Linked DNA regions of Homo sapiens: region 2 is linked to region 1. The links come from fine-mapping of genetic effects on gene expression. A gene starts in region 1. The other region holds a variant in brackets. All regions are shown on one strand. Distances are from middle to middle. Region 1 holds the start of SH3BP4 (SH3 domain binding protein 4). Region 2 overlaps SH3BP4 (SH3 domain binding protein 4).

Evidence for each region. PIP is the estimated chance that this variant, and not a neighbour inherited with it, causes the effect. A credible set is the group of variants that fine-mapping cannot tell apart.
Region 2: its variant is the best candidate, but not a certain one, in a credible set for the expression of SH3BP4 in whole blood (INTERVAL, PIP 0.58).

The regions. Positions count from the first base shown.
Region 1 is chr2:234,950,728-234,953,624 of GRCh38, reverse strand. It overlaps SH3BP4 (SH3 domain binding protein 4), which reads right to left and starts at 1,608. Exons shown (of 6, transcript NM_014521.3): 1 at 1,455-1,608. It overlaps LOC105373938 (a long non-coding RNA gene), which reads right to left. Exons shown (of 7, transcript XR_007088132.1): 6 at 2,274-2,897; 7 at 1,826-2,186. RefSeq lists an enhancer at 506-1,155.
Region 2 is chr2:235,046,414-235,049,310 of GRCh38, reverse strand. All of the region lies in intron 4 of SH3BP4 (SH3 domain binding protein 4), which reads right to left. Among named protein-coding and RNA genes, the nearest start is that of SH3BP4, 96 kb to the right of the region's middle. The variant G/A (reference allele first, on the strand shown) is at 1,544.

The sequences.
Region 1 (2,897 bases):
TTTATGGTGGCTTGAGAAGCAGATTGAGAATCATTACCTTCATTTTTACAAGGCAAGGAACCAAAACCACAGAGGGCGGTGAGGATCCAGGCCTCTCCCATCATTTCATCTGGGCCACGGATCTCAAGGAAAGCCCCCAGCCCACTGGGAAGGGGACTCGTGGCCAGCAGAGATTCTGCCCGGGTAGGGAGCAAGGAAAAAACCCAAACTTTGGAGCTCAGAGACGGTCACAAGGGTGAGAAGGGGCGGCTGCATTCAGGGATTCTCTGGTTTAGGCAAGAATGGCTCCAGTTCTAACTTAATGTTCAAATCTGCCAGGCTGTGACAAGGCTGGTAAAAAATGTGGGATTGGGGATGGTTTCCTGTTTGCTGTTTATATTTCTCTTTATCTCTAGCTTTCTGTCCTGAGCATACATTGTTTCTGTAATCAGAACAAAAGTTATGCGAACTTTATTATTATCACGGATAAATTCTATAGTTCCAATCTGCCTACTAACTTGGAAAGAATAAGCAGGAATACAATCTCGCACAGTGTTCTTTTTCAGATCTCATCGATCCATCAGGCTCCACGACCCTCTGCTCGCTGAGTCCGGCGGCTCTCCCGCGGCTCCTCCCGCGCGGCATCTCTGGGCGCCCGACACCCGGTCAGGGCCAGCTGGGCCTGTCCCCAACCCCCGTCTACACCGCAGGCCCCGGGCTAGGAGCCGCGGGACCCAGGGTTGGGGTCCCAACTGACACCCGCCCGTGCCGCGGAGCGGGCTTCTCGGTAAACATCGCTCAGAGAACAACGCGCCTCTATCCCAGCCGGTCCCCGCCCGCGGGCCGCCGGCGCTGTCACCTCGCGGCTGCTCGGTCACCCGATCGCCAAGCCAGAAACCGGAGTTTTCAATTTCATCCTCACAGGAGGGATCTCCGAAGAAGTTGAAATATGCATTGTCACCAACAAGTTTAACCGGAGACCGCGCGTCCTTCCCTCCTCCCCAGCGCCGCTCGAGGGGGGCGCCCCGACCCCTCCACGCCCTCCCGTGGCCCCCACGGCCCCCGTGAGCCGAGCGCGCCCCCCGATTTGCGCCCGAGGACGCGTCCGGTTGCCCAGGGAGGCCACCCCGCAGGGCCGCCCGCCGGGAAGTGGCCAGAGCCGGGGTTGGGGGGCGGCCCGAGCGCACGCGGAGGGCTGCGGCTCGGCGCCCGGAACCCCGGGCCGGGTCCCTGCCCACCAGCACCAGGGAGACCCGAGCGCCCGGGGGAGCGGCGAGGGGCGCGCGAGGCTTCCCCGAAGCCGCCCCACGCCCAGGCACCCGCGCAGCCCCGAACTCAGGCGGCGGTGGCACGATCGGCGCCCGCGGCACGATCTGCGCCCGCAAGGGAGTGCAAAGCCCCCGAGCACGACCCCGCGCCCCCGCCGGCCCCCAGGGCCCTGCCGCCCGAGGCGCTCCCCGCCGCCGCCTGCCTACCTGGCTCGCATGGCGTCCCCGCCGGCTCCTGAGGCTCCGCTCGTCGGCCAGCGGCTCGGCCCAGCCGGGGGCGCGCGCGGCTCCGCGGGACTCACGGCGGCGGCGGCGGCGGTAGTGGCGAGGGGCCCGGACCGCCGAGAGTGCCGGGCGCGCTGGGCCCCCGCCTCGGCGGGCGGAGGGTGGTCCCGCGCCTGGGCGGGGGCGGGGGCGGGGGCGGGGGCGGGGGCGCGGGGGGCGGGGCCAGGACCGGAGCTGAGGCCGCGGAGGGGGTGGTCCCGCGCCGGGGCGGGGCTTCGGGAGAGGGGCGGGGCGGGGCGCGGCCGTCTGAGGCTGGCGAGCGTGGGGCGGGCTGGGGGTGGTGCCGCGGCTCCGGGTCCAGGCGGGTATCCAGTCTGGGCGCCTCCTCTTCTTCCTCCGCCCGGAGCCGGCCAGGGTAGCGGGGCCTTGGCCGCCCGGCATCCTCGGGTCTGGGTCCCCGGTACCGAGCAGGTCTGGGTGCTGGCCCGCGCTCCTGTGCCCCCCCGCACCCCCATCTCCCACCCCTTCTCCGGGAACCCCTAGCGAGGACCCCTGGGGCGGTGCGGTCCCCCCGCGAGCGGGCGTGGGCGAGGGTCGCGCCGCGTTCGGAGACGCTTTACTACACCTTGGCTGAGGACAGTGGAGGGAAGGCAGGCGCGAGGCTGCGGGGGCCGGAGCGAAAGTTACAAACTAACAACAGGGAAGGCAGTCCGGCTGAAAATCATAAAAGGAGGAGAGTTTCCTGCGAAGCGGAATGCAGATTGAAGGGCTCTGGTCGGAATCGTTTACACTTTGTCTGACCTGGGCGCCTCTGGGCCCCCGGCGCGTAAAACAGGCCTGGCACGTAGTAGGCGCTCCATCAATGCCCAGTGAGTGAACGCACCACTTAACTATGTGGCCAGCAACGTCTATGGACCGACACATCTAATCCTAAAAAAAAAAAAAAATCCCAATTTTGGCTAGTCCATTTCACACGAGTAAACTAGAGCTCGGAGGGTTGGTTCGCCACAGAGGAGAAGGGTAGAACCAGAATCTGAACCGAGGCCGACTCCAGAGGCTGGGGTCTAACCACTGCGCCACTGCCTGGGGCCCTCGGGACTGCGCCCACCCCCACCCCGGGAACCCGGAGCCCAGGAGAAAGCGCGGGTCTTTGCCGGGGAAGAAGCCAACATTTGTTGCTCCTGGTCCTGAGCGAGACACACACAGTCAGTCCTCACCATTAACCCCGAGGCAGATATTGTTATTGTCCCCGTTTTTATAGGTGGCTTGAGACGTGCAGCACTATGTTATGATCGCATGGGGCGTGCCAGAGTCTGAATTCAAACCGGGTATGTTCAGACTCCCGAGCCCCTGCGGCTGCCCCTAAGGCCTGCCGCTCCTGCCGTCTGGGAGACCTTCCTTTCCCTAAGGAATCTGGTTTTCTGC
Region 2 (2,897 bases), 96 kb before region 1:
CGAGTGATCAAAACCGCTCTCTCCCCAGGGGAACTGGGCACAGGTCCCCAAGGTCCTGGGAAACACAGGTGTTCTCTGGCCCCTGGGAAGGAGAGCGCCTGGACTCCATCCAGGGGCAGCCAAGGTCCCATTTCCATGGATCCCAGATGAAAGGAGAGGTCGGCACTTCCAACACCAAGAATGAAGGCATCTCTCCCTCACTCACTTACACAACTTTTACTGAGCCCAGCCCTGGTTTAGTTTGTTACAAACCACCCACACCATCAACAAGGCATAACTGATGCATATTTTTAAAGGACAAATTTTGGGTGCCAACCAATTCTTAGCAATAGAAAAATTTCACAGCAGGAGGCTCTAGCTCTATGAACTTGATCCTTGCAGCTTCCTCTTTTTATGGGCACACAGGTACACCAGGAAACACTCGATGGACTGCTGCACTACCCTGGTTTCAACTGGAATTTTGTTACAGTGAGTACACCATGATTTCAGTCAGGGTGACTGAACTTTATAAAGGGACAGATAGTACTTTTGCCTTTGTGGGACACACGAAGCCTGAAAGCCACAGACGATGCAGATGGGAATGGGTGTGGCTGAGTTCCAACAAAACGCCATTGACAGGAATAGCGGGCCTGGCGGCCAGAGTCTGGGAACTTGCTTCAAGAGATATTCTTGTCCAGCCATGGTGGCTCACCCCTATAATACCAGCATTTTGGTAGGCTGAGGTGGGAGGATAGCTTGAGCTCAATGAGTTCCACACCGGCCTGGGCAACACAATCAAACCTTGTCTCTACTACAGACAAAAAAAAAAAAAAATTAGCTGGGTGTGGTGGCACCTGCTTGTAGTCCCAGCTACTTGGGAGGCTGAGGTGGGAGGACTGCTTGAGCCCAGGAGTTCGAGGCTGCAGTGAGCTGTGATCACACCACTGCACTCCCGCCTAGGAGACAGAGCGAGACCTTTTCTCAAAAAAGGGGCGGGGGAAAATACTCTTATAAAGTACAAAGAAATACAATTTAGGCTTTTTTGCTGCATGTTTATTCCATCCTGCTTCCTTCCCAACATGCCCCAAAACTCGAGGGGAAGCCTTCTGCACATGGCATCTGGACAATGGGCCCATCCTCCTTCCCTCTCCCACATTAACAGCCACAGGCTCTGGCTTTGGGGCTGCCTGGGAGGAATCCCTCAGGACCCCATCCAATGCACACTGTCCATCAACTCCTCCTCTTCTGGAGGTTAAAGTGGGTCTTCTCCCAATCCACAGAGAGTCCCTTCACACCACACCAGTCTTTCCCGCCCCAATGCGCCCCATGCACTTGCTAGCTTCCTTATTTCTGTTAGTTTTCAAGTCTCTTTGGGTTTATTCCGGCCCCCACTCCACTCCCAAAACAACCACCCTCCCTTGCTTTGCATCCCACAGCAACTCCTTCCCTTTCTCATAGAAACTTCTCTACAGAGCCCGACACGCCTATTTCCCTACCTCCCGCAACTTGACCAAAACGCCCCTGCTACAGCCATCACCGACGGCTCCAGGTCACCACACCCCAC[G/A]GCTTCGTTCTTATGGTGGATCCAGGACCAGTTGTGACAGCTCACTCTGGCCCCTTAGGAAGTTCTCCCTGGGCCTGAGGCCACCGTGGGCTGCTTCTGCTCCCATGGCTGATGGCCACTGCCCACGGCTATCTCCAGCTGACTCCCCTTCCTTCCCCACCATAACAGAGACCATGTGCCGAGTGCTGACAGTATCCCGAGAATTGGGAATAGTCTCTTGCATCAAAAGGGCGCTGCTGAATGACTTTTCTGATTCTTAAAAAGCTGGGTTCCCTTTCAAAGGCCTCTACCACTGCCAGACGCTGCCCCTCCTCTTTGCCTGACGGGAGCCCACCGACCACGCAGTGTTTCTGGCCAGTCTACAGAGGATGCACAGCGAGGGTTTCATGTCCCCTGCTTCGCCTCTGACGCATCAGGGGGCTGAAAGAAAACCCTACCCTTGAATCATGCCACTGCCACCATTTTTTGTACATGGGACCCCTGAAGGAGCACAAGGCTTAAATGTGAATGTGCACATTTCTCCTTTCATAAATACTCATGACTCCCCCTACGGCTTATTGAATATGTATATTTGGCCACCAATATCCATAAATTCTTGTTGCCTTTGCCCCTCCCTTGAAGTGTCTGTTTTTGGCTTCTGGCAGGAGGCTCTGCTTCCCAACCTGTCAGAATAGCCACCCACAGGCTGCAACCCTTTATGAGGAATGAGGCTCTCCTTTCCAAATGAACAAACCTTGTCATTCTTCAGCTGACACCATCACGGACAGAGGCTCTGGTGGGAGAGAAGTGGCCAGGACAGAGGGGTGCTCTGAGTGCAGCCACAGCCATGCTGCTGGGAAGGGGCAGGCAGAGGTACGGGGATGCCTCACACACGGACTCTATCAAAAACAGGCACAAAAAGAATGGAAAGAGGAAATGGAACCACAGAACAGAAGCATGGTATGGCCACGTGAGAATGCCTCCCGCTTGGATTCTTAGCCCAGCCCAAGGCCTGCATTCATTCATTCATTCATTCATCATTCATTCATTCATCCATCATTCATTCATTCAATCACTTATCCATCTAGTACCTCAGTGATTCTTATGTGCCGGGGCCCTTCCTCTCATGGGACCTATGTTCAGTTAGAGTAATAATGAGAAACAAGTGCACAAGAACATAAACAAACTTGTTTCTTTTCTTCTCTTCCTTTATTTTCAAGACAGGGTTTCACTCTGTTGTCCAGGCTGGAGTGCAGTGCTGCGATCATAGCTCAGTGTAGCCTCGACCTCCTGGGCTCAAGTGATCCTCCCACCTCAGCCTCCCAAGTAGCTGGGACTACAGGTGCACACCAACACACCTGGCTGATTTAAAAAA